Regions from separate parts of the Homo sapiens genome. Here all the other regions are linked to region 3. Evidence: fine-mapped expression QTL. A gene starts in region 3. Each other region holds a variant in brackets. All regions are shown on one strand. Distances are between the middles of the regions. Region 1 has its middle 210 kb from the start of EMB. Region 2 has its middle 37 kb from the start of PARP8. Region 3 holds the start of EMB (embigin). Region 4 has its middle 290 kb from the start of EMB. Region 5 has its middle 72 kb from the start of PARP8.

What was found. PIP is the estimated chance that this variant, and not a neighbour inherited with it, causes the effect.
Region 1: its variant is the best candidate, but not a certain one, in a credible set for the expression of EMB in whole blood (INTERVAL, PIP 0.84).
Region 2: its variant is the best candidate, but not a certain one, in a credible set for the expression of EMB in tibial artery (GTEx, PIP 0.53).
Region 4: its variant is the best candidate, but not a certain one, in a credible set for the expression of EMB in whole blood (TOPMed, PIP 0.57).
Region 5: its variant is the best candidate, but not a certain one, in a credible set for the expression of EMB in non-classical monocytes (Schmiedel 2018, PIP 0.62).

Annotation. Positions count from the first base shown.
Region 1 is chr5:50,228,486-50,233,485 of GRCh38, reverse strand. No RefSeq gene overlaps it. Among named protein-coding and RNA genes, the nearest start is that of EMB, 210 kb to the left of the region's middle. The variant G/A (reference allele first, on the strand shown) is at 3,045.
Region 2 is chr5:50,627,622-50,632,621 of GRCh38, reverse strand. No RefSeq gene overlaps it. Among named protein-coding and RNA genes, the nearest start is that of PARP8, 37 kb to the left of the region's middle. The variant C/T (reference allele first, on the strand shown) is at 2,256.
Region 3 is chr5:50,439,011-50,444,010 of GRCh38, reverse strand. EMB (embigin) reads left to right here and starts at 2,723. Exons shown (of 9, transcript NM_198449.3): 1 at 2,723-2,971. The coding sequence starts at 2,860. RefSeq lists silencers at 2,780-2,909, 2,990-3,179.
Region 4 is chr5:50,147,291-50,152,290 of GRCh38, reverse strand. No RefSeq gene overlaps it. Among named protein-coding and RNA genes, the nearest start is that of EMB, 290 kb to the left of the region's middle. The variant G/C (reference allele first, on the strand shown) is at 2,181.
Region 5 is chr5:50,591,841-50,596,840 of GRCh38, reverse strand. No RefSeq gene overlaps it. Among named protein-coding and RNA genes, the nearest start is that of PARP8, 72 kb to the left of the region's middle. The variant A/TA (reference allele first, on the strand shown) is at 2,063.

The DNA.
Region 1 (5,000 bases), 210 kb after region 3:
AACTTTCTTTTTATTAAGCTCCTTGGAAACACTCTTTTTGTAGTATCTGCAAATGGATATTTGTAGCGTTTTCTGTCCTATAGCTGAAAAGGAAATATCTTCACCTAAAAACTAGACAGAAGAATTCTGAGAAATTTCTTTGTGATGTGTCCATTCATCTGACAGAGTTCAACCTTATTTTACTAAGCAGTTTGGAATCACTTTTTTTGTACTATCTGCAAATGGATATTTGGAGGGATTTGAGGCCTATAGTGGAAAGGGATATATCTTCACTTAAAAACTACACAGAAGCATTCTCAGAAACTTCTTGAATGCTTCTCAGAAGTGTGTCAATCTTGGATATTTCCTACTTTCTCTTGTGGGCATTTAGTGCTAAAATTTTCCCTCTTCACACTGCTTTGAATGTGTCCCAGAGATTCTGGCATGTTGTGTCTTTGTTCTCATTGGTTTCAAAGAACATCTTTATTTCTGCCTTCATTTCATTATGTACCCAGTAGTCATTCAGGAGCAGGTTGTTCAGTTTCCATGTAGTTGAGGGGTTTTGAGTGAGTTTCTTAATCCTGAGTTCTAGTTTGATTGCACTGTAGTCTGAGAGACAGTTTGTTATAATTTCTGTTCTTTACATTTGCTGAGGAGAGCTTTATTTCCAAGTATGTGGTCAATTTTGGAATAGGTGTGGTGTGGTGCTGAAAAAAATGTATATTCTGTTGATTTGGGGTGGAGAGTTCTGTAGATGTCTATTAGGTCCGCTTGGTGCAGAGCTGAGTTCAATTCCTGTGTATCCTTGTTAACTTTCTGTCTCGTTGATCTGTCTAATGTTGACAGTGGGGTGTTAAAGTCTCCCATTATTATTGTGTGGAAGTCTAAGTCTCCTTGTATGTTACTCAGGACTTGCTTTATGAATCTGGGTGCTCCTGTATTGGGTTCATATACATTTAAGATATTTAGCTCTTCTTGTTGAATTGATCCCTTTACCATAATGTAGTGGCCTTCTTTGTCTCTTTTGATCTTTGTTGGTTTAAAGTCTGTTTTATCAGAGACTAGGATTGCAACCCCTGCCTTTTTTTGTTTTCCATTTTCTTGGTAAGTCTTCCTCCATCCTTTTATTTTGAGCCTATGTGTGTCTCTGCACATGAGATGGGTTTCCTGAATACAGCACACTGATGGGTCTTGACTCTTTATCCAATTTGTCAGTCTGTGTCTTTTAATTGGAGCATTTAATCCATTTACATTTAAAGTTAATATTGTTATGTGTGAATTTGATTCTGTCATTATGATGTTAGCTGGTTATTTTGCTTGTTAGTTGATGTAGTTTCTTCCTAGTCTCCATGGTCTTTACATTTTGGCATGATTTAGCAGCGGCTGGTACCGTTTGTTCCTTTCCATGTTTAGTGCTTCCTTCAGGAGCTCTTTTAGGGCAGTCCTGGTGGTGACAAAATCTCTCAGCATTTGCTTGTCTGTAAAGTATTTTATTTCTCCTTCACTTATGAAGCTTACTTTGGCTGGATATGAAATTCTGGCTTGAAAATTCTTTTCTTTAAGAATGTTGAATATTAGCCTCCACTCTCTTCTGGCTTGTAGAGTTTCTGCCAAGAGATCTGCTGTTAGTCTGATGGGCTTCCCTTTGTGGGTAACCTGATCTTTCTCTCTGGCTGCCTTAACATTTTTTCCTTCTTTTCAACTTTGGTAAATCTGACAATTACGTTTCTTGGAGTTGCTCTTCTCGAGGAGCATCTTTGTGGCATTCTCTGTATTTCCTGAATCTGAATGTTGTCCTGCCTTGCTAGATTGGGGAAGTTCTCCTGGATAATATCCTGCAGAGTGTTTTCCAGCTCGGTTCCATTCTGCCCATCACTTTCAGGTACACCAATCAGACGTAGATTTGGTCTTCTCTCATAGTCCCATATTTCTTGGAGGCTTTATTCGTTTCTTTTTATTCTTTTTTCTCTAAACTTTCCTTCTCACTTCATTTCATTTATTTCATCTTCAATCACTGATACCCTTTCTTCCAGTTGATCGCATCAGCTCCTGAGGCTTCTTCATTCTTCACATAGATCTCAAGCCTTGGCTTTCTGCTCCATCAGCTCCTTTAAGCACTTCTGTGTATTGGTTATTCTAGTTATACATTCGTCTCATGTTTTTCAAAGTTTTCAACTTCTTTGCCTTTGGTTTGAATTTCCTCCTGCAGCTCGGAGTAGTTTGATTGTCTGAAGCCTTCTTCTCTCAACTCATCAAAGTCATTCTCCATCCAGCTTTGTTCTTTTGCTGGTGAGGATCTGTGCTCCTTTTTAGGAGGAGAGGCACTCCACTTTTTAGAGTTTCCAGTTGTTCTGCTCTGTTTTTTCCCCATCTTCGTGGTTTTATCTTCTTTTGGTCTTTGATGATGGTTATGTACAGAGGGATTTTTTGTGTGGATGTCCTTTGTGTTTGTTAGTTTTCATTCTAACAGACTGGACCCTCAGCTGCAGGTCTGTTGGAGTTTGCTAGACGTCCACTCCAGACCCTGTTTGCCTGGGTATCAGCAGCGGTGTCTGCAGAACAGTGGTTTTTCTTGAACCACGAATGCTGCCATCTGATTGTTCCTCTGGAAGTTTTGTCTCAGAGGAGTACCCGGCCGTGTGAGGTGTCAGTCTGCCCCTACAGGGGGTTGCCTCCCAATTAGGCTGCTTGGTTTTCAGGGGTCACGGACCCACTTGAGGAGGCAGTCTGCTCGTTCTCAGATCTCCAGGTCTGTGCTGGGAGAAACACTGCTCTCTTCAAAGCTGTCAGACTGGGGCATTTAAGTCTGCAGAGGTTACTACTGTCTTTTTGTTTTTCTGTGCCATGCACCCAGAAGTGGAGCCTACAGAGGCAGGCAGGACTCCTTGAGCTGTGGTGGGCTTCACCTAGTTCGAGCTTCCCAGCTGCTTTGTTTACCTAAGCAAGCCTGGGCAATGGTGGGTGCCCCTCCCCCAGCCTCGTTGCCACCTTGCAGTTAGATCTCAGACTGCTGTGCTAGCAATCTGTGAGACTCCATGGGCACAGGACCCTCTGAGCCATGTGTA[G/A]GATATAATCTCCTGGTGTGCCATTTTTTAAGCCCGTGGCAAAAGTGCAGTATTCAGGTGGGCATGACCCAATTTTCCAGGTGCCATCTGTCACCCCTTTCTTTGACTAAGAAAGAGAACTCCCTGACCCCTTGCACTTCCTGTGTGAGGCAATGCCTTGCACTGCTTTGACTCACACTTGGTGCATGCACCCACTGATCTGCACCCACTGTCTGGCACTCCCTAGTGAGATGAACCCAGTATTTCAGATGGAAATGCAGAAATCACCTGTCTTCTGTGTCAGTCATGCTGGGAGCTGTAGACTGGAGCTGTTGCTATTCAGCCATCTTGGCTCCAAAATCCCTATATTTTGATTGAGCAGTTAGGAATCTAACATTTTGTGTAATCTGCATGTGGTTATTTGGAGCCATTTTTGGCCTATGGTGGAAAATTAAATATCTTCAAATAAAAACAACATGGAAGGATTCTGATAACCTTCTGTGTGATGTGTGCATTCGTTTCACAGAATTGAAACTTTCTTTTGAATTAGCAGTTTTGGAACACTCTTTTTGTAGAATCTGCAAGTGGATATTTGGAGCGCTTTGTGTCCTATGATGGAAAAGGAAATATCTTCACATAAAAACTACACAGAAGCATTCTGAGAAACTTCTTTGTGAAGTTTGCATTAAACTCACAGAGTTGAAACTTTCTTTTGATTGAGCAGTTTTGAATCACTCTTTTTGTAGATTCTGCAAGTGGATATTTGGAGCGCTTTGAGGCCTATGGTGGAAGTGGAAATATCTTCACATAAAAACTAGACAGAAGCATTCTGACAAACTTCTTTCTGATGTGTGCATTCAACTCACAGACTTGAACCTTTGTTTTCATTGAGCAGTTTTGAAACACTGTTTTTGTAGAATCTGTAAGTGGATATTTGGAGCACGTTGAGGCCTTTGGTAGAAAAGGAAATATCTTCATGTAAAAACTAGGCAGAAGCATTCTGACATACTTCTTGTGATGTGTGCTTTCCACTCACAGAGTTGAAGCTGTTTTGATTGAGTAGTGTTGAAACTCTCTTATTGTAGATTCTGCAAGTGTATATTTAGAACCCTTTACGGCCTATGGTGGGAAAGGAAATATATTCACATAAAAACTACACAGAAGCATACTGAGAAACTTCTTTGTGATGTGTGCATTCATCTCACAGAGTTGAAACTTTCTTTTGATTGAGCAGTTTGGAAACACTCTTTTGTAGAATCTGTGAGTGGATAATTGGAGCACTTTGAGGCCTATGGTGGAAAAGAAAATATCTTCACATAAAAACTAGACAGAATCATTATGAGAAACTTCTTTGTGATGTGCACATTCATCTCACAGAGTTGAACCTTGGTTTTCATTGAGCAGTTTGGAAACACTCTTTTTGTAGGATCTGAAAGTGGATATTTGGAGGGCTTTGAGGCCTATGATGGAAAAGGAAATATCTTCGCATAAAAGCTAGACAGAAGCATTCTGACAAAATGCTTTCTGATGTGTGAGTTCAACTCACAGAGTTGAACCTTTCTTTTGATTGAGCAGTTTTGAATCACTCTATTTGTAGATTCTGCGAGTGGCTATTTGGTGTGCTTTGAAGCCTATGGTGGAATAGGAAGTATCTTCACATAAAAACTAGATAGAAGCATTCTGACAAACTTCCTTCTGATGTGTGCATTCATCTCAGAGAGTTAAACCTTTGTTTTAATTGAGCAGTTTTGAAACACTCTTTTTGTAGAATCTGCAAGTGGATATTTGGAGCACTTTGTGGCCTATGGTGGAAAAGAAAATATCTTCACGTAAAAACCAGACAGAGGCATTCTGAGAATCTTCTTTGGGATGTGTGCATTCATCTCAAAGAGTTGAACCTTTGTTTTCATTGAGGATTTTGGAAACCTTATTTTTGTAGAATCTGCAAGTGGATATTTGGAGCCCTTTAGGGCCTAT
Region 2 (5,000 bases), 190 kb before region 3:
TGTATAGAATTAAGAGCCATCAAAGGGGATCCCTGAATTCTTTCTGTTTTTCTTACAAATACCAGTTTTAAGGTCAAGATTTACTACCCCATGCAACAGTGTGCCACATTTTAAATTTTAAATTTTTGACTGTTTGTCTAAAGGTCTCAGGCAACCTAAAAGGCCAGTTAGAAGTCTTTCATCCTCTAACAAAGGATGGATCGTAAAATGAAATACTGTTGAGACTCTCCCCTTGGGTACTAATTCTGCAAAAACCTAGAATCTCAGAGACAAGAGACAAATATTTGGAGTGGATCATTAGATGTAATGACAAAAGGAGTCACTTCAACATTCATAACAAAGATCAAAGATTGTTGTATTTTTTATATGGGAGACACCAGACAAGCTTATACTTAGTTACTAGTTCAGAGGATACACCACCACATCCTCTGGCATGAGTACAACCTTATAAGCCATTGTCTCCAGCTGGCACTGTGATTGAGTCTTTAATAAAATATTCGCCATTCTATAATAATAATAATTTTGGTTAGTGATAGGATAAATGGTGGACCAGGTGAGTGCAGTGAATATCTACTCATTTGTTATACAACAAGTTCTTTGAATAGAAGGATGTAGAACAGGATATTATGGCAGTATGTATAAAGCATTCAATGTACCCACGGAGAGTGGTGATCAGAGAAACATGATGTCAGGTCAAGCAAATGTAATTCAAGGATATAAAGCTAGATTCCATTTACAACATTCCTTGTTGCCTTTATCATAGAGGAGCTCCAGTAAAATCAACAAGTCTGACAAAAGGTGACTGTTTTTTTCACCCAGGATATGTTATTTTGTGCTTAGCCTTGGTCCTTGTTGCTTGTGTGTTGGACACCTAATAGTCTTGACAGCTAAATAGGCTTTGGTAAGGGACAGTGGTAAAGTCCAACATGTTGCTAAACCTATATGTATTCTCTACTGCTACCACCAATGTTGCTGTTTATTAGCCTTCTGAGCAAGCAATGTAGTGCCTGGTGAAAGAAGTTGTTTCATACCTTCATATTTATTTGATAACCTTCCTGATGATAGTTTGGTGAGTATTCATATTAAGCACAAATATTCTTACACTCTGGCTCATTTTCTGTAGTTCATCTACGTATTTTTCCCCAAAACTCATTGTCACCAATCCTTCAATCTTTGTCCTTCCAAGTCCCTAATTATCTTTTTTTTTTTTTTTTTGAGACGGAGTTTCGCTTTGTTGCCCAGGCTGGAGTGCAGTGGTGCAATCTTGGCTCACTGCAACTTCTGCCTCCTGGATTCAAGAGATTCTCCCGCCTCAGCCTCTCGAGTAGCTGGGACTACAGGCACACACCACCACACCTGGCTAATTTTTGTATTTTTAGTAAAGATGGAGTTTCACCATGTTAGCCAGGCTGGTTTCGAACTCCTGACCTCAGACAATCCGCCTGTCTTGTCCTCCCAAAGTTCTGGGATTACAAGTGTGAGCCACCAGTCCTGGCCCCAAGTCCCTAATTACCTAGACAAATTTTTAGCTGCCACATATAAATCAGTAATATCTCTCCTTCTAGACATCGTGGACAACTGATTACATAGGCTGAATTTCTTTTAAAATTGCATTCAAGTAGGTTATAATGCCTAAGCAATCTACTTTTGGCTGTTGCTGTGATGTTGTACAGCGACTTCTGTAAATCAGGCTCAATTTTTCCCTCACTAATCAACTGGCCATAGAGAAATTCCCATGAAGACATAGGTATAGATTCTATTATTCCTACCTGCGGATGAAGCAGGATAGTTAACTGGAAAACACTTATTTCATGATAAGCAGCTCATGTTGTCATATTTTTTTGCATTGGTAAGACTTCAGTTTCTACAATGGTCCAGGATCAATCAAGAATTCTTTAAAGAAAACATTTATTTTGTCAAAGAAAGAAGCATTTTGTTCCAAATCCTAAGAACCATAGTAGTGGTGTGTCAGAGGCTCTATTGCATCTGGATATAAAAACAAAGGGGCACAATATTCCTGACCAGTTGGGAATTATTATCTTGATCTCAATCCCATCAAAAGATGGCAGCATGACAAGTCATAAAGTAAAAGGACCAGGTGATAAAATGAGGTCTCCAAAATCCAATGCATCAAAGTTCTCAATTAGTGGTCAGGACTGCAACGTGCCATAATTTTTCACTTTGGAAGGTATACCTTGAGTATATTGAGTGTATGAGGCAAGTTAAAAGGTCATGCAGCTGAGCGCGGTGGCTCA[C/T]GCTTGTAATCCCAGAACTTAGGGAAGCTGAGGCGGGCGGATCATGAGGTCAGGAGTTCAAGACCAGCTTGGCCAACATGATGAAACCCCGTCTCTACTAAAAATACAAAAATTAGTGGGGCATGGTGGCGCCCTCCGGTAGTCCCAGCTACTTGGGAGGCTGAGGCAGCAGAATCGCTTGAACCTTGAAGGCGGAGGTTGCAGTGAGCTAAGTTGGCACCACTGCATCCAGCCTGAGTGACGCAGTGAGACTCTGTCTCTTAAAAAGAATTAAAAAATAAAAATAAAAATCTTAAAAGTTTGTGATAAACACCTCTGTTAGCCTCTGATCTTTATAATAATTATCACACACACACAAACCAAACACCACACATAGAGGAAACAGTAAAAGATTAAAGGACACAGCTAAAAATACATTTGTATTGTTACTTCCCAAAGTTCTAAAATTATGAGAAGGGACTAGTGAATCTTTAAAAAATATTGATTATCCAACACTTTGTAATAATGACTGTAATTGCATTGAAGGCTACTGAACATGCACATATTCCTAAAATTTTTCTGTTATGGTATCTGGTTTGCGAAAGGAACAAAATTAAACACAGTTCCTTGGCAATTTTTCTCTCTTCCACTCTACTCATTGGCATATGTGCCACATGTGTTTATTGTAAAATAGGAATAAGATTCAGAGGTCAAGAATCAAAGTGAGTCAGAGTAGGAAAAGCCAGACTCAAGCGGAACAGAAGGGCAGCAAACCCCAAAATTAAAGGGTAAATTTAAACACAAGTAGAAGTGGTTCAAAAGCTAAGGGGATCCTCATAGTTCATGAAAAACAAGTATTCACGCAGGTAACAGACTCTAATCTGCTGCAAGCCAATGTGCTATTCTCTTCATGTTATTTATATCCCTCAGAATACCTCAAAGTTCCCGAGAGCAGTCAGTATTTAACTCTAAACTATATCATATATATGATATATTTATTATATATAATATATATATATTTATTATTATTTTTTTTGAGATGGAGTTTTGCTCTTGTTGCCCAGGTTGGAGTGCAATGGCACTATTTCAGCTCACCACAACCTCTGCCTCCCGGGCTCAAGTGATTCTCTTGCCTCAGTGTCCTGAGTAGCTGGGATTACAGGCATGTGCCACCACGCCTGGTTAATTTTGTATTTTTAATAGAGACGGGGTTTCTCCATGTTGGTCAGGCTGGTCTGGAACACCCATCCTCAGGAGATCCACCTGCCTCGGCCTCCCAAAGTGCTGGGATTATAGGTGTGAGCCAACGTGCCCAGCCAACTATATCATATTTTAATTGTGTAGTGATAACCCTCATCAAAAGAAGTATTCATTATGGTCAGTGTACTCTGCTTACTTACCACTGAAGCTTAACACAAAATTGTTGAAATAAACATGCATATTGAAGTACTCAGCTAGCTATTGAGGCAATACAGGTTTCTAGATTTACTCATTTTTTTTCACTGTACACAAATGTCATGTGTGTCATGATAAACCCATGTGTGTGCATATATTGATTAAATATTATATTTCTTTTTACTTTTATTACTATTATTGAGAAAGGGTCTCACTCTGTCGCCCAGGCTGGAGTGCAGTGGCACGATCTCAGCTGACTGCAGCCTTGTCCTCCGAAAGCCCTAGACCCTATAACATAACAGAATATGTATGTTTCTAATTTGTGCAATATTGAAGCAGGAATACTAGATAGTACTGTCATCTTTTCCTATTGCATTTATTTTGGTGTGGAAAAATATAATAATTGGCTTCAATCACTAAGTCTATTTCATTCAAGAATATTTAAATATAATCCAAACCATCTTAAGTACATTTTGTGATACAAGAGGATGGTATCTTCTATTTGGAAATATAAAATCCCAGGGTCTCACAGTTTAAGTATACTTTCCAGGGGTATGTGTAAAACAAGAATCCCACTTTACAAAATTAATAGAAAAAATATGCTAATTGGAAGGAGAGGCTACTGATTGAGGATAAAGTGGAAATTTTCACATACTGCTAATTACACTTCAATGGAGTAAGAAAAAAAGAACTGGAAATAGTACCCTATAAAACTTCTGAAATGAAATTACAGTTTGTCTCTCTCTCTCTGTTTCTTTTTTTTTTCTTGAGATGGAGTTTCACTCTTGTTGCCCAGGCGGGAGTGCAATGGTGCTATCTGAGCACACTGCAACCTTCGCCTCCCGGGTTTAAGTGATTCTTTTGCCTCAGCCTCCCAAGTAGCTGGGATTACAGGCATGCACCACCATGCCCAGCTAATTTTTTGTATTTTTAGTGACCCACCACGCCTGGCTGTCTCCTCTTTTTAGAATTAGGAGAACTGATTTTTTTCAATGCTAAACTGGCACTGTACTATGTTTTCAAGAAAGCAATATGGTGAAATGAAAGAAGCTGGATAGCATGTTTTGTTAGCTGGTGTCGAGTTCTTTAAGTTCCATGAGCCTATTGTGTCCTCTCTACATCTCAAAAAGAAGAGAGAAGAAACCTGCATCTAATTACTGAAGCAGTTTCATTCAGCAAATGTAATTGCATCACAGGCACATCTCAAATTAGAAATCTTGATCTTGGTCTCTGTCATTTCCATTTTAAACTGGGACTGAATAACCTGTTTTGCCACTCAAAATAATAGCCAGTGTCTCTTTCTTATTAAAAAATGTGATCTTTTGCTTGATTACCTAATTATGTCACCTGCACCTTACATGAGGCAGATAG
Region 3 (5,000 bases):
GATTTGTCCAGTGGGAACCCCTTTAAATGTCCTTAAAGGTAAAAACTGCCAGCATGTTCTACTGAGATATGGACTAACAATGTCAGACATATGTGGGTGCTTGAATAGTATTTGCTTCAAAAATATTTATTACTAGAAAGCTGCTGTGTTTGGGGTGAGAGGTTAGTAGGGAAGGGGGTTCATAAAGGGAATGCAAAAGCCACGTCCTCTGGAAGTTAAAGGATCATTTTAAATGATTCTACTGCAAACATTTTTCAAAAGATAAACATGACCCATTTCTCCAATTTGTGTCATGTAATAGTAATAATAATGATATTTAAATACTCCCACTGATATGTCCTTTACAAAGATATATTATATGTCTTATTTAATCAAAAAACCTTAAAAGAGTCCCTGTACCTAATTTTATTCCAGGACTCAAACTGTGTCAGCATGTCATTCAGTGCAAATCAGACATTTAGATGCATAGGCTATGCTGTCAGTAGTTCTGAACTTTCATAGACATTTCCAATTAGCTCGGAGAGACAACTGGATATTGTGTTTAAGCACTGTGTTTAGGAAAACAGGCACTGGATGGACCAATGCCAAATTTCCTGCTCTGCTGCTTAACTAAGTATGTGTAATTACTTGGGCAATTACTTAAGCAATTACTTGGGCAATTACTTAAGCCAATCCCCAATTTCTTCGTCTTGAGCCCAGAAGGTCAAGGCTGCAGTGAGCCGTGAATGTGCCTCTGCCCTCCAGCCTGAGCGACAGAGTGAGAATTCCCCAGGAGTGCAGAGGTTCTCAGAACTGCAATACTCTGAGATGAATTTTGAAAGGTGAATCAGGGATAGAAAAAGTTATATAGGGAAGGCAGTCAATAAGCTTGTTTTAAAGGATATGGAGCATTTGAAAAAGTGGAATGTACATAAGGCTGGAAATATCAAATATCTAAATATAGAACAGGAACAGTGATGAAAAGACTTTCAAAATGCTTAGCAAAATGAGAATTATATTTCTTTCTCAACTCTTTTGTTCCAACAGCAAAAGCAACAGTGGGGATCAGCATCAACTTGGGTAAGTAAGTTTTTCTGGTCATAAATAGGCTGATTCAACTGAAAAAAATGTTTCTTTAAGAAGGGTGAATTTGTGTCTAAGGATTTTATGAGACTAACTGGGAAAAGTCAGTCAGAGTTTAGTTTGAGGTGAGAAGTGCTTACTGTTGACACTCTACCTAATTATAGGGAAATGTGTGCAGTTAGTCCTGAGACCAGATGCAGGGTTGAAAGAAAGAGGTGTGATGTAGCAGCCATTGATTAGGCAATTTGGGTTTAGCAAGCCCAGTCAATGCCCTCAGAGGGTCAACAGTGTATAAGATTTAGTCCTTGAAGGCATCTTTTAAAGTTTCATTCAGAAGATTTTAATAATTTTGACCATAATTTTCTGAGAAGAGGCTTTTCTGAGATTTGTCATTCACAGATAAACAGTTGTCTAATTTGTGTGTGTGTGTGTGTACATGTGTGCATGCGTGCATTTGTGCATGTGTGCCTATCTAGCCTCTTTTGAACACAATGGTAGATTGGCACCTGGTAGATAATATTGTTGAATGAATTGTATTATTCATATTATCTCACTGCCAATTTGAAGAATCTACATTCTGTTTCCAAAGTTTTGTGCATATAATACTAAACCAGAAACAGACGTGTTTTAGTAATACGTACCAATTACAAATTAACCATTCCTGCCTGGAATAAACACAGGTTTTGTTAAATAGCTCAATTTTCAAAATTTGTCTCATGTTATTTCCAATCCTTTTTTTTTTAACGCCGATATATTTTGAATTTACGAATGTGAAAGCTGAACTTCAAAAAAATAAAGGGAGAGGAAACAAAGCTCGTGAAAAATTTTAAAAATATCTTTTAATGCGTTATAACATCCTGGAGAGAAATCAAATCAATGTGTTTCAATGTTACAATATAGATTTCTCCTCCCCTCCCGGATAAAGCACTAATTTATTTAATTTGGTTCAGAGCACTGAATATTCCAAGCTACAGCCTTGTGGGTAAGAGCATTATCTTAAAGAGTGTTCGGATTTAACAAAGGTCAATGTCTTGTGCAGTTTACATAGTATCTACTCTCAGTAGCTTTTGCTTCTTGAGCTCTAGGTGGCTCCTCAGAAGCTGTTAGGCTTAACAAACAAAAATAAAGTAAAATCAGACACGGTATGGGGCCTTGGGACTCTAAAACCTTCATCCGGAGAAAATCAGTTAAGCCTTCAGAGACTAGAAGAGAGAATGTGTGTGATTGGTAGGCAAAGCAAAGAAAGATTAACACAAGTTGTCTGGCAGCTGGATAAAACCTTACACCTGCGCAAAAATAAGCCTCCCTCGTAAGAAAGCCCAAAGATGTCCGGGGTCCGGGAGGAGAAAAGTGTTTCTCATCTGTCCCATCAAAGCAAATTAGTGAAACCTGCCTCAGGTGAAGTGCAAAGGCCAGTCTGTAGGCAGAGTTTCGACCTCTCCCCACGAGATTGGCTAGACATCACCTGCCCAAGCTCTCTCCCGACCTGCTAGAGCCGAGAGGGCGGAGGCCGGAGAGGCTGCAGCCGGGAAGTAGCACCGCCACCGCACATCCGGGAACGCCAGCAGCCGGCTGAGGGCTGCATAACTGATGGAGGGCCGGGCGCGGTAAGAGCGTCTCGGGGGAGTGGGGCAAGGCGGCCGGGCCCCTCCCATTCCGCCTTTTCTTCAGCGTCCTACCCGCGGCACTGGCTGCGAGCGCCGGGCCACCTGCGAGTGTGCGCAGGGACTCTGGACACCCGCGGCGGCGAGCTGAGGGAGCAGTCTCCACGAGGACCCAGGCGGACCCTCTGGCGCCATGCGCGCCCTCCCCGGCCTGCTGGAGGCCAGGGCGCGTACGCCCCGGCTGCTCCTCCTCCAGTGCCTTCTCGCTGCCGCGCGCCCAAGCTCGGCGGACGGCAGTGCCCCAGGTGTGATGGGTACAGGGTCCAGGGTAGGGAGGGCGGAGGGCGCGCGAGGCTCGGGTCCCCGCGGGCAGAGGGCATCGCCGGCGCGCCGGGCAAGGGTGGCGGGGAGAGGCGCGGGGATGCTGGTAAGGGCGGGTGGGAGAGTCGGCGGCGGCCTCCCATTAGCTACGTTTGTGTCACCTAAGCTGAACCCTGAAACTGCTGCGGCTCGCGTTCCTGCGCTCTTTGGGGCGAGTCTTGAACGAACAGCGCCCCGCGAGTCGGGCGCGTAGGTAACAGGGCAGAGTCTGGTTTTTCCTAGGAAGAAGGCAGTGGGGTGTGTGGGTGGTTGCAGGGACCAGCTAGCGACTTGGCTTGGGCAAATATGGCATGAATTTTGAAAGCCACATTTCCCCAAGGCCTACTCCCTTTTCTTGATTCGAGAGTAAGGCTCGAGTATCACCTCCTTCCCTCCTCTTGGCAGGTGGGTTGGCTTTGAGGATTTTTTTTTTTTTTTTTTTTTTTTTTTTGAGACGGAGTTTTACTCTTGTTGCCCAGGCTGGAGTGCAATGGCGTGATCTCGGCTCACCGCAACCTCCTCCTCCCGGGTTCAAGCGATTCTCCTCTGTCAGCCTCCAGAGTAGCTGGGATTACAGGCATGCGCCACCACGCCGGGCTAATTTTATATTTTTAGTAGAGACTGGGCTTCTCCACATTGGTCAGTCTGGTCTCGAACTCCCAACCTGAGGTGATCCGCCCGCTTCGGCCTCCCAAAGTGCTGGGATTACAGGCGTGAGCCACCTCACCTTGCCGAGGATGTTTTTTTAGAGCTGAGTAGGGGAAAAAACATCATAACCAACTAGCCAACCAAAGATCCACAACTTACAGGATAACGTGTGTGTATCTTCATTTTACACCGTGGTCTTTGAAAACAAAATGTGTGTGTGCATGTGTGTGTGTGTATGTGTGAGATTTTTGCTTGTTGTTTTATTGTTTAAGACACTTTGACAGAGGGATTACGTGCAAAACATTAACAAAGCCAACACGAAAGTTGCCATTCTACCTTCACCTGTTTATAATTACTTTTCATATTGAAAGGATTCCATCCAACCTATTGCAAGTTTCTGTGTCATAAATGTTACCAGCCAGTAAGGGTAATAAAAGACCACCTCTCAAGCTGGTAAATATTGGCCACCAGTAACTAAAATTGGGACATTATTCTGCAAAAAGTTTTCAAACTCTCATGGGAATTTATTTTCATGGGCTTGTAAGATGTGGAATTTTTGTAACACACCATAGAGAAGGAAGGATAATCAAAAGGTAAGACTATTAATTTTTATAAATGCCTTTTAAAACGTCTAGTTGTTAACAACTTGGACAGAACATCGTGGGTTCCTTCGCAGATTTCCTTGTGCCACATCTCTTTTCCATAATACCACTTATAAAGAATTGTCCAGGCCTGTAATCCCAGCACTTTTGGGCGCTGAGGTGGGAGGATGGCTGGAATCCAGGAGTTCAAGACCACCCCGGGCAACATAGCAAGGTCCCTTCTTTATTAAAAAAAAAAAAAAAAAAATTAAAAGTGCGGTTGTGGTGATGTACACCAGTAGTCCCAGGTGCTTGGGATGCCAAGGCAGAAAGATTGCTTCAGTCCAAAGTTTGAGGCTGCAGTGAGCTATGATGGTGATGGTGCCACTAAGCTCCAGCCTGGGTGACAGTGCAAAACTGTCTCAAAAAAAAAGAAAGAAAAAGAAACAGAATTGTCCAGGACATTTTTCCCCCTTCTGGGTATCTCCAATTCTTCTATCCCTGGTTCACCTCAGAGTATTGCAGTTCTGAGAACCAGTGCATTCTGGATTCATTGTAGAACTTTGATTCTCTACTTGACTGTATGTCAGAATCACCAGAGAGCTTGAAAAATCCTGATACCTGGATCTTTTCCCGCAAAACTCTGGTTCATTTGGCTTGGGATTCAGTGTGGGCATTAAGGAGTTTCATCAGCTCTCCATGTAGCTTTAAATGTGATTTTAAGCTGGTTAAAAACCACAGCTTT
Region 4 (5,000 bases), 290 kb after region 3:
GACAGAAGCATTCTGAGAAACTTCTTTGTGATGTGAGCATTCATCTCAAAGACTTGAATCTTTCTTTTCATTGAGCAGTTTTGAAACACTCTTTTTGTAGAATTTCCAAGTGGATATTTGCAGTGCTTTGAGGAATATGGTGGAAAAGGAAATATCTTCACATAAAAACTAGACAGAAGCATTCTGTGAAACTTCTTTTTGATGTGTGCATTCACCTCACAGTTGAAACTTTGTTTTGATTCAGCAGTTTTGAAACACTCTTTTTTATAATCTGCAAGTGGATATTTGGAGGGATTTGAGGCCTATCGTGGAAATGGACATATCTTCAAATAAAAACTACACAGAAGCATCATGAGAAACTTCATTATTATGGGTGCATTTATATCACAGTGTTGAAACTTTCTCTTTTATTATTATTATTATAGTTCAAGTTTTATGGTACATATGCATAATGTGCAGGTTAGTTACATGTGTATACATGTGCCATGCTGGCGTACTGCACTCATTAACTCGTCATTTAGCATTAGGTGTATTTCCTAATGCTATCCCTCCCCTCTCTCCCCACCCCTCAACAGTCCCCAGAGTGTGATGCTCCCCTTCCTGTGTCCATCTGTTCTCATTCTTCAATTCCCATCTATGAGTGAGAACATGTGGTGTTTGGTTTTTCATCCTTGTGATAGTTTACTGAGAATGATGATTTCCAATTTTATCCATGTCCCTACAAAGGACATGAACTCATCATTTCTTATGGCTACATAGTATTCCATGGTGTATATGTGCTATATTTTCTTAATCCAGTCTATCATTTTGGACTTTTGGTTGGGATGCAAGTCTTTGCTATTGTGAATAGTGCCGCAATAAACATACGTGTGCATGTGTCTTTATAGCAGCATGATTTATAGTCCTTTGGATATATACCCAGTAATGGGATGGCTGGGTCAAATGGTATTTCTAGTTCCAGATCCCTGAGGAATCACCACACTGACTTCCACAATGGTTGAACTAGTTTACAGTCCCACCAACAGTGTAAAAGTGTTCCTGTTTCTCCACACGCTCTCCAGCACCTGTTGTTTCCTGACTTTTTAATGATTGCCATTCTAACTGGTGTGAGATTGTGTCTCATTGTGTTTTTGATTTGCTGTGATGGCCAGCGATGGTGAGCATTTTTTTTCATGTGTTTTTTAGCTGCGTAAATGTCTTCTTTTGAGAAGTATCTGTTCATGTCCTTCACCCACGTTTTGATGGGGTTGTTTGTTTTTTTCTTATAAATTTGTTTGAGTTCATTGTAGATTCTGGATATTAGCCCTTTGTCAGATGAGTAGGTTGCAAAAACTTTCTCCCAATTTGTAGGTTGCCTGTTGACTCTGATGGTAGTTTCTTTTGCTGTGCAGAAGATCTTTAGTTTAATTAGATCTCATTTGTCAATTTTGGCTTTTATTGCCATTGCATTTGGTGTTTTAGACATGAAGTCCTTGCCCATGCCTATGTCCTGAATGATAATGCCTAGGTTTTCTAATAGGGTTTTTATGGTTTTAAGTCTAACGTTTAAGTCTTTAAAACATCTTGAATTATTTTTTGTATAATGTGTAAGGAAGGGATCCAGTTTCAGCTTTCTACATATGGCTAGCCAGTTTTCCCAGCACCATTTATTAAATAGGGAATCCTTTCCCCATTGCTTGTTTTTCTCAGGTTTGTCAAAGATCAGATAGTTGTAGCTATGTGGTGTTTTTTCTGAGGGCTCTGTTCTCTTCCATTGATCTATATCTCTGTTTTGATAGCAGTACCATGCTGTTTTGGTTACTGTAGCCTTGTAGTATAGTTTGAAGTCAGGTAGTGTGATGCCTCCAGCTTTGTTCTTTTGGCTTAGGATTGATTTGGGGATGCGGGCTCTTTTTTGGTTGCACATGAACTTTAAAGTAGTTTTTTCCAATTCTGTGAACACAGTCATTGGTAGTTTGATGGGGATGGCTTTGAATCTATAAATTACCTTGGGCAGTATGCCTTTTTTCATGGTATTTATTCTTTCTACCCTTTCTTCCATTTCTTTGTATCTTCTTTTATTTCATTGAGCAGTGGTTTGTAATTCTCCTTGAAGTGGTCCTTCACGTCCCTTGTAAGTTGGATTCCTAGGTATTTAACTCTCTTTGAAGCAATTATGAATGGGAGTTCACTCATGATTT[G/C]GCTCTCTGTTTGTCTGTTATTGGTGTATAAGAATGCTTGTGATTTTTGTACATTGATTTTGTATCCTGAGACTTTGCTGAAGTTGCTTATCAGCTTAAGGAGATTTTGGGCTGAGACAATGGGGTTTTCTAGATATACAATCACGTCGTCTGCAAACACGGACAATTTGACTTCCTCTTTTCATAGTTGCATACCCTTTATTTCCTTCTCCTGCCTAATTGCCCTGGCCAGAACTTCCAACACTATGTTGAATAGGAGTGGTGAGAGAGGGCATCCCTCTCTTGTGCCAGTTTTCAAAGGGAATGCTTGCAGTTTTTGTCCATTCAGTATGATATTGGCTGTGGGTTTGTCATAGATCACTCTTATTATTTTGAGATACGTCCCATCAATACCTAATTTATTGAGAGCTTTTAGCATGAAGGGTTGTTGAATTTGTCAAAGGCCTTTTCTGCATCTACTGAGATAATCATGTGGTTTTTGTCTTTGGTTCTGTTTATATGCTGGATTACATTTATTGATTTGCATATATTGAACCAGTCTTGCATCCCAGGGATGAAGCCTACTTGATCAGGATGGATAAGCTTTTTGATGTGCTACTGGATTTGTTTTGCCAGTTTTTTACTGAGAATTTTTGCCTCAATATTCTTCAACTATATTGGTCTAAAGTTCTCTTTTTTGGTTGTGTCTCTGCCTGGCTTTGGTATCAGGATGATGCTGGCCTCATAAAATGAGTTAGGGAGGATTCCCTCTTTTTCTATTGATTGGAATAGTTTCAGAAGGAATGGTACCAGTTCCTCCTTTTACCTCTGGTAGAATTCGGCTGTGAATCCATCTGGTCCTGCACTCTTTTTGGTTGGTAAGCTATTGATTATCGCCACAATTTCAGAGCCTGTTATTGGTGTATTCAGAGATTCAACTTCTTCCTGGTTTAGTGTTGGGAGGGTGTATGTGTCGAGGAATTTGTCAATTTCTTCTAGATTTTCTAGTTTATTTGCATAGAAATATTTGTAGTATTCTCTGATGGTAGCTTGTATTTCTGTGGGATCGGTGGTGATATCCCCTTTATCATTTTTTATTACATCTATGTGATTCTTCTCTCTTTTCTTCTTTATTAGTCTTGTTAGTGGTCTGTCAATTTTGTTGATCCTTTCAAAAAACCAGCTCCTCAATTCATTAATTTTTTGAATGGCTTTTTGTGTCTCTATTTCCTTCAGTTCTGCTCTGATTTTAGTTATGTCTTGCCTTCTGCTAGCTTTTGAATGTATTTATTCTTGCTTTTTTAGTTCTTTTAATTGTGTTGTTAGGGTGTCTATTTTGGATCTTTCCTGCTTTCTCTTGTGGGCATTTAGTGTTGTAAATTTCCATCTACACACTGCTTTGAATGTGTCCCAGAGATTCTGGTATGTTGTGTCTTTGTTCTCGTTGGTTTCAAAGAACATCTTTATTTCTGCCTTCATTTCGCTATGTACCCAGTAGTCATTCAGGCGCAGGTTGCTCAGTTTCCATTTAGTTGAGCAGTTTTGAGTGAGTTTCTTAATCCTGAGTTCTAGTTTGTTTGCACCGTGGTCTGAGAGACAATTTGTTATAATTTCTGTTCTTTTACATTTGCTGAGGAGAGCTTTACTTCCAAGTATGTGGTCAATTTTGGAATAAGTGTGGTGTGGTGCTGAAGGAAAAGTATATTCTGTTGATTTGTGGTGGAGAGTCCTTTAGATGTCCATTAGGTCACTTGGTGCAGAGCCAAGTTCAATTCCTGGATATCCCTGTTAACTTTCTGTCTCAATGATCTGTCTATTGTTGACAGTGGGGTGTTAAAGTCTCCCATTATTAATGTGTGGGAGTCTAAGTCTCTTGTAGTTCACTCATAACTTGCTTCATGAATCTGGGTGCTGCTGTATTGGTTGCATATATATTTAGGATAGTTAGCTCTTCTTGTTGAATTGATCCCTTTACCATTATGTAATGGCCTTCTTGGTCTCTTTGGATCTTTATTGGCTTAAAGTCTGTTTTATCACAGACTAGGATTGCAACCCCTGCCTTTTTTGTTTTCCATTTGCTTGGTAGATCTTCCTCCATCCTTTTATTTTGAGCCTATGTGTGTCTCTGCACATGAGATGGGTTCCCTGAATACAGCACACTGATGGGTCTTGTCTCTTTATCCAATTTGCCAGTCTGTGTCTTTTAATTGGAGCACTTAGTCCATTTACATTTAAAGTTAATATTGTTATGTGTGAATTTGATCCTGTCATTCTGATGTTAGCTAGTTATTTTGCTCGTTAGTTGATGCAGTTTCTTCCTAGTCTCCATGGTCTTTACATTTTGGTGTGATTTTGAAGCAGCTGGTACTGGTTGTTGCTTTCCATGTTTAGTGCTTCCTTCAGGAGCTCTTCTAGGGCAGGCCTGGTGGTGACAAAATCTCTCAGCATTTGCTTGTCTGTAAAATATTTTATTTATCCTTCATTATGAAGCTTAGTTTGGCTGGATGTGAAATTCTGGGTTGAAAATTATTTTCTTTAAGAATTTTGGCCAGGCACAGTGGCTCACGCCTGTAATCCCAGCACTTGGGAGACAAAGGCGGGTGTATCACGAGGTCAGGAGATTGAGACCATCCTGGCTAACATGGTAAAACCCTGTCACTACTAAATATACAAAAAATTTACAGGGCTTGGTGGCGGGTGCCTGTATACCAGCTACTCGGGAGGCTGAGGCAGGAGAATGCCATGAACCTAGGAGGTGGAGCTTGCAGTGAGCCCAGATCGCTCCCCCATGCTCCAGACTGGGAGACAGAGTGAGACTCCGTCTCAAAAAAAAAAAAAAAT
Region 5 (5,000 bases), 150 kb before region 3:
AAATCAAAACCACGATGAGATACCATCTCACACCAGTTAGGATGGTGATCATTAAAAAGTCAGGAAACAACAGGTGCTGGAGAGGATGTGGAGAAATAGGAACACTTTTACACTGTTGGTGGGACTGTAAACTAGTTCAACCATTGTGGAAGTTGGTGTGGTGATTCCTCAGGGATCTAGAACTAGAAATACCATTTGACCCAGCCATCTCATTACTCGGTATGTACCCAAAGGATTATAAATCATGCTGCTATAAAGAGACGTGCACCCGTACGTTTATTGTGGCACTATTCCCAATAGCAAAGACTTGGAACCAACCCAAATGTCCATCAATGATAGACTGGATTAAGAAAATGTGGCACATATAAACCATGGAATACTATACAGCCATAAAAAATGATGAGTTCACGTCCTTTGTAGGGACATGGATGAAGCTGGAAACCATCATTCTCAGGAAACTATTGCAAGGACAAAAAACCAAACACCGCATGTTCTCACTCATAGGTGGGAATTGAACAATGAGAACCCATGGGCACAGGAAAGGGAACATCACACACCGGGGGCTGTTGTGGGGTGGGGGGAGGGGGGAGGGATAGCGTTAGGAGATATACCTAATGCAAATGACAAGTTAATAGGTGCAGCACACCAACATGGCACATGTATTCACATGTAACAAGCCTGCACGTTGTGCACATGTACCCTAAAACTTAAAGTACAATAATTAAAAAAAAGAAGTAAACATCAGTTGGTGACAAATAATAATATCTGCTTTGTGGGGAAAATTAAAGGCCCTGGAGAGGTATCAGGATGCACTAATTGTTCTTAATGTGTTCTGTCTTTTATGGTAATCACTGATTAAAATTTCATTAAATGAGTATGTATTATGCCTCAACAGAGAATGCCACTATCCCCCATTGTGATGTTGTTTGCTATGACAAAAAATTAACCAAACTTTACAGTTTTATTATCAACAACATCTCCTCCCCCTATCCCCGCTGCTTTTTTTTTTTTTTTTAGATGGAATCTCTCTCTGTTGCCCAGGCTAGAGTGCAGTGGTGTGATCTCAGCTCACCGCAAACTCTGCCTGTCGGGTTCAAGCTGTTCTCCTACCTCAGCCTCCTGAGTAGCTATATTCAGGTGCCCACCCCCACGCATGGCTAATTTTTCTATTTTCAGTAGAGACAGGGTTTCACCATGTTGTCCAGGCTGGTCTCAAACTCCGGACCTCAAGTGATCCACCTGCCTCAGCCTCCTAAAGTGTTGGGATTACAGACATGAGCCACTGTGCCCAGCCCTTCTTTCCCTTTAAGCATACCTAAAAGCCTTTCTACAAAGCGCCAATCAGAATTTAAGTCATCTGGAAGAAATATCAAAAGAGCTCCAGTAAAAACCGTAGCAGACACTGTTGATACTGTTGATACCACAGGAAATTGACTCATGGATATAGGCCTCCAAGAATAGGCTGACCTTGTCCCCACAAACAATATTCCAACTATACCAAGTAAATGAGTCAGGATTTCCAAGACACTCACAATGTAGAAGCAGATGAATTCATGAAAGCAGACTGCTTAACTCAAGACCAGCATGACAAGAGGTTGTTATTTAGGATTAAAGGACCTCAATAAAGCGATTTAATTGAGGTTAGTTTAATTTTCTACTTTAATGAACATGAGAGAAACCCATTTTCTTTCTTCTTAATCTATCTTTAACCTCCAATTAAATTTACAAATTATTGAATTTGTAAAAACTAAATAAAACACTCTGAATTCTTAGTGTTGAGGAAAAAAATACCTTGTAGAAATTCTTAATATAAAAACAAAGCTAATAAATTGCCAAGAAAAACATACAAATAATTATTTTGTAAAGAATTGTGACATACAATATTTGGTTTTGTCTATTAACATACTCTTAATTAGCAATATTGGTTAATTCTTACACAAAGTTTCTTTAATAAAAACATTTACTTTTTGTGACTATGTAGTTATTTGTATTGGTTCAATAAGAATTTGTCCTCCCTTCTACCTGAATATATAACTAATTAGAAAAATCTTTTTTTTTTTTT[A/TA]GATGGAGTCTTGCTCTTTTGCCCAGGCTGGAGTGCAATGGCATGATCTCAGCTCACTGCAAACTTCCAGTCTTGGGCTCAAGCACTTTTCCCACATCAGCCTCCTGGGTAGCTGGGATTACAAGCACCCACCATCATGCTAGGCTAATTTTTGTATTTTTATAGAGACGGGGTTTCACCATGTTGGCCAGGCTGGTCTTAAACTCCTGACCTCAGGTGATCTGCCCGCCTTAGCCTTTCAAAGTGCTGGGATTACAGGCGTGAGCCACCTTGCCTGGCCAGGAAGAATTAATTTTTTAATAAAAAATTTATAGCTGTGCTACAAATTCAATTAAATTAGACAAGACAAATCCAGTAATAAGAATAATTTCTATGTTTTTCACGCAGAAGTGATGCCTATAACATCCTTCTAGGAAACCAGTCTGGTACATGCTGTATGGACTATGCAATCTCAGGCTTGGAGGTTAAAAAGAATGTCCTTTCTTGGCAGAGCAGGGACATCAAGACATCTGGATATCTTTTATTAAAAAGGATACATTTGCATTATAAATACTGCAGGTGAAATCAGGTAGAGGTGAGCTGACTGGTTTGGTCTGCTCTAAACTGAGCTGTTAAACATGTAAAAGTAAATTTAAACCACAAGGGCTTTATAAATCTATAGATAGACATAAACTTGTAAGCCTTAGTTTATTGTTTCGTCAAAAAAATACTAGGAGGTCATTAAATTAATATAATCAACACTTCTTCTTAGATCTGTGCAAATAAAATGGCTCAAAGTAAAATGTAAAATCAATAGTACTGATTAGGAACATTGTTCAGCAAATGTAGGTAGACAAACATGTCCTGTAGAGGAGGAAACATGACCACAAGATGAAGTGTAAAAACCAAAGTGACATCTGGGCCTGACACCATTGTCAGCCCGTACATCATGTCCCACTGCTGAAGAAACAGAGAAAAAAACCTCTGCACTCTGACATAAAGAAACAATAAAAGAGTCTCTCTGTTTACTTGCAGTCCTCCAAATGAATAAAACCTTGAGCATTTCCTGAGAGTTGCTAACTCCTTAATGAAAATTACTTTATCCTTGACTTTACAATGCTATTTATTGTCTGAAGATATGTCATGAACTTTTTGAATACAATAACCATGATAAAATTGCTGTTTTCTGCCATGAAGAGACTAATATAAAGCCTATAGTCTTCACAATACTGTTTGTTTTAAAAAATTCTATTTTTTAAATTTTTTGGGCCAGTTCTTTTGAAGACTGACTTCCTCACATTTCTTTGCAAGTAAATGCCTCCTGCTTATTTTTCCGACATGCTTTTGTTTCTGAGCCTTTCTTTCATGCTCTATACACACAAATCAGCAGGAGATGGTACCTGCAGCTATATTTGGAGTTTACTGCCTCAATGTTCACTTGCAATGAAAGAGAGTATTTCTGTTCTAGCTTCTTAACAAAAGACTAGAAATTCATGCTGAACCAACAAATTGTCCTCTATATTTTTCATCTGCAAGGAGGATTTAAATATTTCTAGCTCAGTATTTCAGCCCTGAAGATTATTTCACCCCCACTGCTAATCGTGACCTAATCTGTTTTTGTGTTGTTAATGCTCCTATATACTAGCCTGGTCAGTAATTCAATAACAGGCTTAATTTCTTAATATTTTAGGCCATGTGTTAATTTTGCTATTTCTTAGCCATTATTCCTCAATAGTTTTAAACTGCATCCCTGCTTACCCTCCCTTTTACTGGACAGGCTTCCTCTGTTTACTAATACAATTCCCCAAATTGATTCATCCACTTGTTGAAATACCTAATTTTAGGCCTTGCACTGACAGCTTGCCTAGGCTTATACTTGTTGTGTTTGGTGTTGTAGTCTTCAGATTCTAAAAACACCATCTAGACCTTACATTACCTCCAGCCAGGCCTATTCCCCCAGGGCCTGCCTTAAGGAGCAGATTTCTTTTCAAGTTTCATCTTCCTCCCATTTATTTCATTTCATGACAGTTAGAGAAGCTGTATACGAACATATGACAAATGGTAAGTTAGCAGAGAAAAATGTTATTTTAGGATAAGTTCAGGGAAAGCTTTTTGGAGGAAAGTCAGCTCACATTAGTCCTGATGATGGATAGTGGACTACAGATGATGGAATGATGAAGTGGAAACTCGGGTGGGTACATATGGACATTCCACATAGAAGCAGTGTGAGCAAAACCACCAAGACAGGAAATGAGATGGAATTGATAAGGCAATGCAAATAATTCAGGTTATTTAGATAATCAGTGTTGGGGGACGCTGGATTTATGGGAATCAATGGTTAATCAAAATGTGAGCAGCATTGGTTTGGTAATTCATGGAAGAGGTTATCATTCAACAGGGGGAGTGGCTTCTCAATTATAAACAAACATGTCTGAAGGTCACTGAACATCAAGGCTATCCTTCAGTTAAAATCTTATTAAAATTATACTGACCTCTGATGACCTTCAGAGAGCTCCAGCTAGATGGACTGATGATAAGAGAAATTCGAGAAGGCAATGGGACAAATCTTTCTGCAAATCTCTGTTATGTCATATATCTAAGGTTTCTGCTGGATCCAGTGATTTGTTTGTTCTGACTGTAGTACAAACCTATTGGAACAATAAATCTAGTTATAATAAATGACAGAGGGCATTCAAGCAGATGCAAGAAGCAAAATATACAGGTGTAAAGACAAACTATATTAGGCCTCCCATCAAGCTTCTCTAACATTTTCACACCACAGCCCTGCCTGACTTCTCTGTATCTGGGTAGGCCCCTTCTGTTTGTTAAACCAGTTCTCTGATGGTGACTACCTGATTCTCTAGTCCTCAAGTTCACTCATCCTTTTTATTGAGAATGACATTTTTAGACTACTAATAATGTTTATATATAAGAAAGAAACTGAGTTTTTATATAAATA